Linked DNA regions of Homo sapiens: region 1 is linked to region 2. Evidence: fine-mapped expression QTL. A gene starts in region 2. The other region holds a variant in brackets. All regions are shown on one strand. Distances are from middle to middle.

Region 1 (2,912 bases), 34 kb before region 2:
CTTCTAGATTTTGACCATGTTGAGAGCCAGCTGGAGATCCTGGAGGAAAAATATTGTAAACTAACTGCTAGTTTGGTGCTACTTGAAATTTTTCTATTCTTCCGCATCTGCCTATGACTGCAGGTAGAGGGGCAGTAGCACCATCCTCTGAAGAAAGGAACCAGCCACTTGGTAGCAGGTTGACTTTGTTTCATCCTTCAACCCTCACAGGGGCAGTCATTCATCCTGACTGCTAACCTTACTTTTGTAAGCTCCAGGAACACAGATCACTAAGAATTCTAGAGGAGCTATTCCCAGAAGACATACAAAGACTGCAGATCCAAATGACTCAAGAGGTGAAATGTAATGTATGCTGTGGTGTACTTCTCAGATGCCTTCACCTTAGGTCTGAAATACTCATTCCCCAACAATGCCTCCATGCTAAAAGTGTTGGTAACTAATGGGTCTCAGCTGAGCCCCTCTCTAGGCATTACCCTGGAGAGCCAAGCCAAAGGCTACCTTACCCAAGACCACACCGTATCCCTGGAGTCAGCTCACATTCAGTGACTGTTCAAAGCCGAGCATAAAGCTGGGGCAGAATTAATGCAAGGAAAGACCACTCTGAAAGGCCAGGATTCCCTGTGGAACTGACTAAGTCTTTAGTTTAACGCCTTCCTTTGTCCAGTCCCACTTCCTTTATTCCTCCACAAGTGTTGATAGGAGGGTACTGGCCAATTAACCTCCTGCACACAAATTGTCCCAGAGTTTGCTTCCTGGGGACAACGTTATATACTAGGTCTAAGCATGGTATTTATGACAGGAATGGGTTCAGTAATGGGCAAGTAACTTGATTTAGGTAAATACAGTATGCGGAGGTTTGTTCTGGGATCTTCTGGGAAATTTTCCTGACACTAGAGAAAACCATAGGAAGAGATTATCTCTCCTTGAAGTTAAATCTGAACAAGAACTCCTGCAGCTTCCATTGCTGCTGACAAACATATTTTGACCCCCAAAACAACCAGTCTCAGAACAAAGATTATACTGTGATTAACAGAATGGAGAGATGGAAA[T/A]AACCTGAGTTCTTAATGATGCTGAGTTGCAAGATCAATGCACCCTGAAGGCCACCCCATTTTTAGACTTCTCATTATGTAGACCAATAAATTTCTTTATTATTTGAAGCAAACTAGGGGTCTCTTTTTTGTCTGTTTCTGCTACTTACAGCCAAAACATCTGACTGATACAGGTGTGCATCTCACTGACTCTTCCTTCCTATACTGCTTCTGGAGATTTTTATAAACATTCAAAAAATATTGAGAAATTCACAACCCAGAAAAAAAAACTGAACTCTAACTAAGAGCAGGTGGTGGCTGATGGTAAGTTTTCTTTTCCTTTCTTCTTCCTTTCTTTCTTTTCTTTCTTCTATGGGGCACCAATAATACATTTTCTTAAAAAGGGGACCTAGCTAAACAAATATATTTTATGTACAAAAAATAATAATTAAGACCACAATAATTTGTGTAACTGTTTGACAAAAATTATCTTAAATTATACTTTTAGGATCAAAGTACAATCTAGGCCATGAATTTGATGTATAATTGGAACTTCTGAAAGCTCCCTCTGTAATAAACAGGTAAAGTCAGACACGTGGTAATTGCAAAGGGTATTTATATGCCTGTGGAGGAGGAAGAAAGAGATTTTTGCAAAATTGCTTCAGAAGGAAAATGCCAGTAAAACAGATATAGTTCAAAAAATGAACTGTTTGCAACTTAAAAGATAAACAATCCATTATGAAAAACCAAGAAAATGTTACTCATCCCCACACATGGTATCTTGACTCAAACTCTGAAGGTCAGAATAAACTGATTTTTGTCAGGTCAGAAAGGAAAGAGTTTTCAAGAAGCAAAGTGCTCTGCCCTTTCACACAGAACAGCACATTGCCATTCCTTCAGATTCAAGAATATGACAATGGAACACTCTGTTCTGATTTTAACTGTTTTACGAGTCTCTTGTATCTCCTGGATTGATTGTGTTCTTTTCTTCCTCAGCACTAGTCATTTCAAAACTGTTTCTTCAGGCATTTAAATACAAAATCTAAAGATTCCATCATTGTGGATCATAGACAAATCACTGGGCTGAATTTAAGACACAGGCTTTAATGTCATGCCCACCAACGAACTGGGTGGCATTGAACAAATCTCTGTCTCTCTGAGCCTCCATTTCATCATCTCCAAAATGATCTCTTCTCGCTCCATGATTATAGATTTCTTGAGAAATGAGAGGAGCTGTCTGAGTGCTGGGTGGCTTGTGGCAATGATAGCCCATTTTTCTGTCTACCCACCCCCCAACATTTCACACTTCAAAGTCTTAGCCCAATTTATAGCCTGGTCAGTCTGTTATGGGGAAGCTGGAGGCTGAGGAGATTTCTTCATAAATACTCAAGACAGAAACAACAAATCCTCTTCTTCCAAGTCTACAATCAACCTCTATTTTACTTTTGGTGCCTTGAGAGTTAGCCCACATCATCAGTGCAGAAGAAAAATGAATCAAACACTTCAGTTCCTTTTCTGCTGTGAATTTTAGAAATGATCTCAGAGGTCATTCTGTAGCGAGTCTGACTGATTTTGTATAAGTTAAGGTGGTGGTGAGTAAGGACTGAATAAACCTAGAGTCCTTCAGAGACGTATTAATAAGTTTGAGTCTTCAAACCTATACAAAATTTGCTCTTTGTTCTCTAAGTCTAACCCCAAATACCTAGGAAGATCCTCAGGCCACAGCATCAAAGCCAACCCCATGACCCACAGCACCATAGATAGAAAAGCTGGCTCAGAAATGCAATCTTACCAGGAAACAGTGACTGGAATCCATGGAGTGCTTTGCAAGGTACCTGGCTTGGACACTTAAAAGGTTCCATGAGAAAGAACAGAGGGAGAAGG
Region 2 (2,912 bases):
GAAAACTAACTGCAATATGGTATCCTGAATTGGGTCCTGGAATAGAAAACGGACATTAGTGGAACAGTTGGTGAAATTAAAATAAAATCAGTAACACAGTTAATAGTTTCGTATCACTGTTAAGTTTTTAGTTTCATTGGTTATATAAGCTGTTAACATAAGGCAATATGGGTGATGGGTATGTGGGAACTCCCTTTATTACCTTTGCAACTTTTCTGTAAGTCTAAAATCATTCTTTTTTTAAGTTAAAACAGCAAAACTACCAGTTCTTTTACCTGCTTCTAGCAGGTGCTCAAAGAGGGACAGAGCAAAACCTTGCAAAGCATGACATTAGAGGGTGTCCCAGAAGCAAGGGTCTTCTGTAGCCCCAGGCACTGCTGCTCCCAAACTGCATGGCCTTTCTTGGCAAATGATTTACAATCTCCGAACCTCAGGTCAATGTCTTAAAAACGGGCACAGAATGTCTTTTCAACAAATGGTACTAAGAAAACTGGATATCCACATGAAAAAGAGTAAATGTGGACTCATACCACATATGAAAATTAACTCAAAATGGATTAAAGGTCTAAGAGTTTAAATTATAAAACTCTTAGGAGAAAACATAGAGGAAAATCTTCCTAACATTGTATTTGGCTATGACTTCACTGCGACACCGAAAGCACACGCGACAAAATAAAAATAAAATAAAATAAAATAAGACCAGAAAAGCAAAGAAGGGCAGCATCCCTTCCCGTCCTGATAGCTGCCGGATTTTACCCCAATCGTGTTTCTGCTTCCAGGAGCTGTCCGCGCGTCGCCTCTGTTTTATCACTAAGGTTTTAATTGTGAATAAACAAGGAACTGGATTCGAATGATTTCTTAGTTTCTGAGATTTTTTTGTCTAAGCATCGTAGACTTCGTGCGTTCTCAACCCAACAGGAAGCGTCACATCTCAGTGAGCTTCGGCTCTCACAGCCCGAAACTGCAAGGAGCTCCTCTGCCCGGCCTCTCTTTACTCCTCCTCTCTGCCCCTCAGCTCGCTCATCTTTCTTCCCGCCCCCTCTCTTTTCCTTCTTTGGTTCTTTGAAGTGATGAGCTAGCGCAACCACAAACCATACATTCCTTTTGTAGAAAAACCCGTGCCTCGAATGAGGCGAGACTCAGAGAGGACCCAGGCGCGGGGCGGACCCCTCCAATTCCTTCCTCGCGCCCCCGAAAGAGCGGCGCACCAGCAGCCGAACTGCCGGCGCCCAGGCTCCCTGGTCCGGCCGGGATGCGGCCGGTACCCGCTCCCCGCCGGGAACAACCTCTCCACTCTTCCTGCAGGGAGCTGGTGCCAGCCGACAGCCGCGCCAGGGCCGCTCCGGGTACCAGGGTCGGATCGGGTGACGTCGCGAACTTGCGCCTGGCCGCCAAGCCGGCCTCCAGGCTGAAGAAGGACCCGCCCCGGCCTTGACCCGGGCCCCGCCCCTCCAGCCGGGGCACCGAGCCCCGGCCCTAGCTGCTCGCCCCTACTCGCCGGCACTCGCCCGGCTCGCCCGCTTTCGCACCCAGTTCACGCGCCACAGCTATGTGTCCCCGAGCCGCGCGGGCGCCCGCGACGCTACTCCTCGCCCTGGGCGCGGTGCTGTGGCCTGCGGCTGGCGCCTGGGAGCTTACGATTTTGCACACCAACGACGTGCACAGCCGGCTGGAGCAGACCAGCGAGGACTCCAGCAAGTGCGTCAACGCCAGCCGCTGCATGGGTGGCGTGGCTCGGCTCTTCACCAAGGTTCAGCAGATCCGCCGCGCCGAACCCAACGTGCTGCTGCTGGACGCCGGCGACCAGTACCAGGGCACTATCTGGTTCACCGTGTACAAGGGCGCCGAGGTGGCGCACTTCATGAACGCCCTGCGCTACGATGCCATGGTAAGACCCGAGCCCGCGCCCGGGATAGTAGTCCCGGACTGAGAGAGGAGCCGGGCTGGAAAAGCAGCGGATGGCAGAGTGTGGCAAGCCTAGGTCCAGGGCGCGGAGAGATGTGGGGATAAAGTGAGACTCCGGCCAGTGTGCCAGCTGGATGCATAGAAGTCCCTTGGACGATTCGTCTTAAACGGACGTTATTGCGCCCCCACTATGAGATGGGAGTATTTAGAGGAGCAGGACCCAGTCCTGCCTGCGAGGGGCTTAAGGTGGGGTGCGTAGAAGCACTGACAGTTATCCAGAGCTAGGGACTGAATCGGATCCCTCACGCAGCTCTCATTTACTGCTAGATCTTTCAAAGAATGCTTTATCTCAATCTAGATCTTTCGAAAAATGCTTTATCTCAATCTTATTGAAAGGGAAACCGCGTCGAAGAAGCTGAATAAATTAACAGGCACCATCCCCGCAAAAAGGGAGACGTGATAAGAATGGACACCAGATCTCTTTGACCCCGGAGCTTGAGAGTAATTAAGCTCACAGCTTTGGGGTAGATTCTCTGTTCAATTACCTTCTATGTGACCTTGAGCAAGTTATTTACTCTTTCTTGCCTCAGTTCTATCCTGTATAAAAATAAGGATTATAATTGTACATAGTGCACATAGTGTGGTCTCTATATTATTACCAGACACATAGTGTGGTGTCTATATATGTTGTTATTACCAGACACTATAATATAGGGTTAAGAAAAGGAAAGAAAGAAAGAAAGAGAAAGAAAGAAAGAAACTTCAGAGAGAGCCAAAATGTGGAAAGACTTGGGTTTCAAAGGATTTCAATAAAGTAGGTTTGGCGGCAGAGATTTAGGAAGAGTCCAACTTAAGAGATAATGGGCTCTTAAAACATGTGCAAAAGTTTAGTTCAAAGTCCCAAATGTTAGGTTAAAGGTAATGCCTTTTCTATTGCACTAAATTCTAGAAAGGGAGCAGAGGTGGTTGCACAGTAATAAATAAGTACAACCAAGATGTATATATGG

The links.
Region 1: its variant is fine-mapped to the expression of NT5E in whole blood (INTERVAL, PIP 0.95).

Annotation. Positions count from the first base shown.
Region 1 is chr6:85,414,377-85,417,288 of GRCh38, forward strand. No RefSeq gene overlaps it. Among named protein-coding and RNA genes, the nearest start is that of LINC02535, 11 kb to the left of the region's middle. The variant T/A (reference allele first, on the strand shown) is at 1,050.
Region 2 is chr6:85,448,591-85,451,502 of GRCh38, forward strand. NT5E (5'-nucleotidase ecto) reads left to right here and starts at 1,493. Exons shown (of 9, transcript NM_002526.4): 1 at 1,493-1,888. The coding sequence starts at 1,550. RefSeq lists a silencer at 1,286-1,555.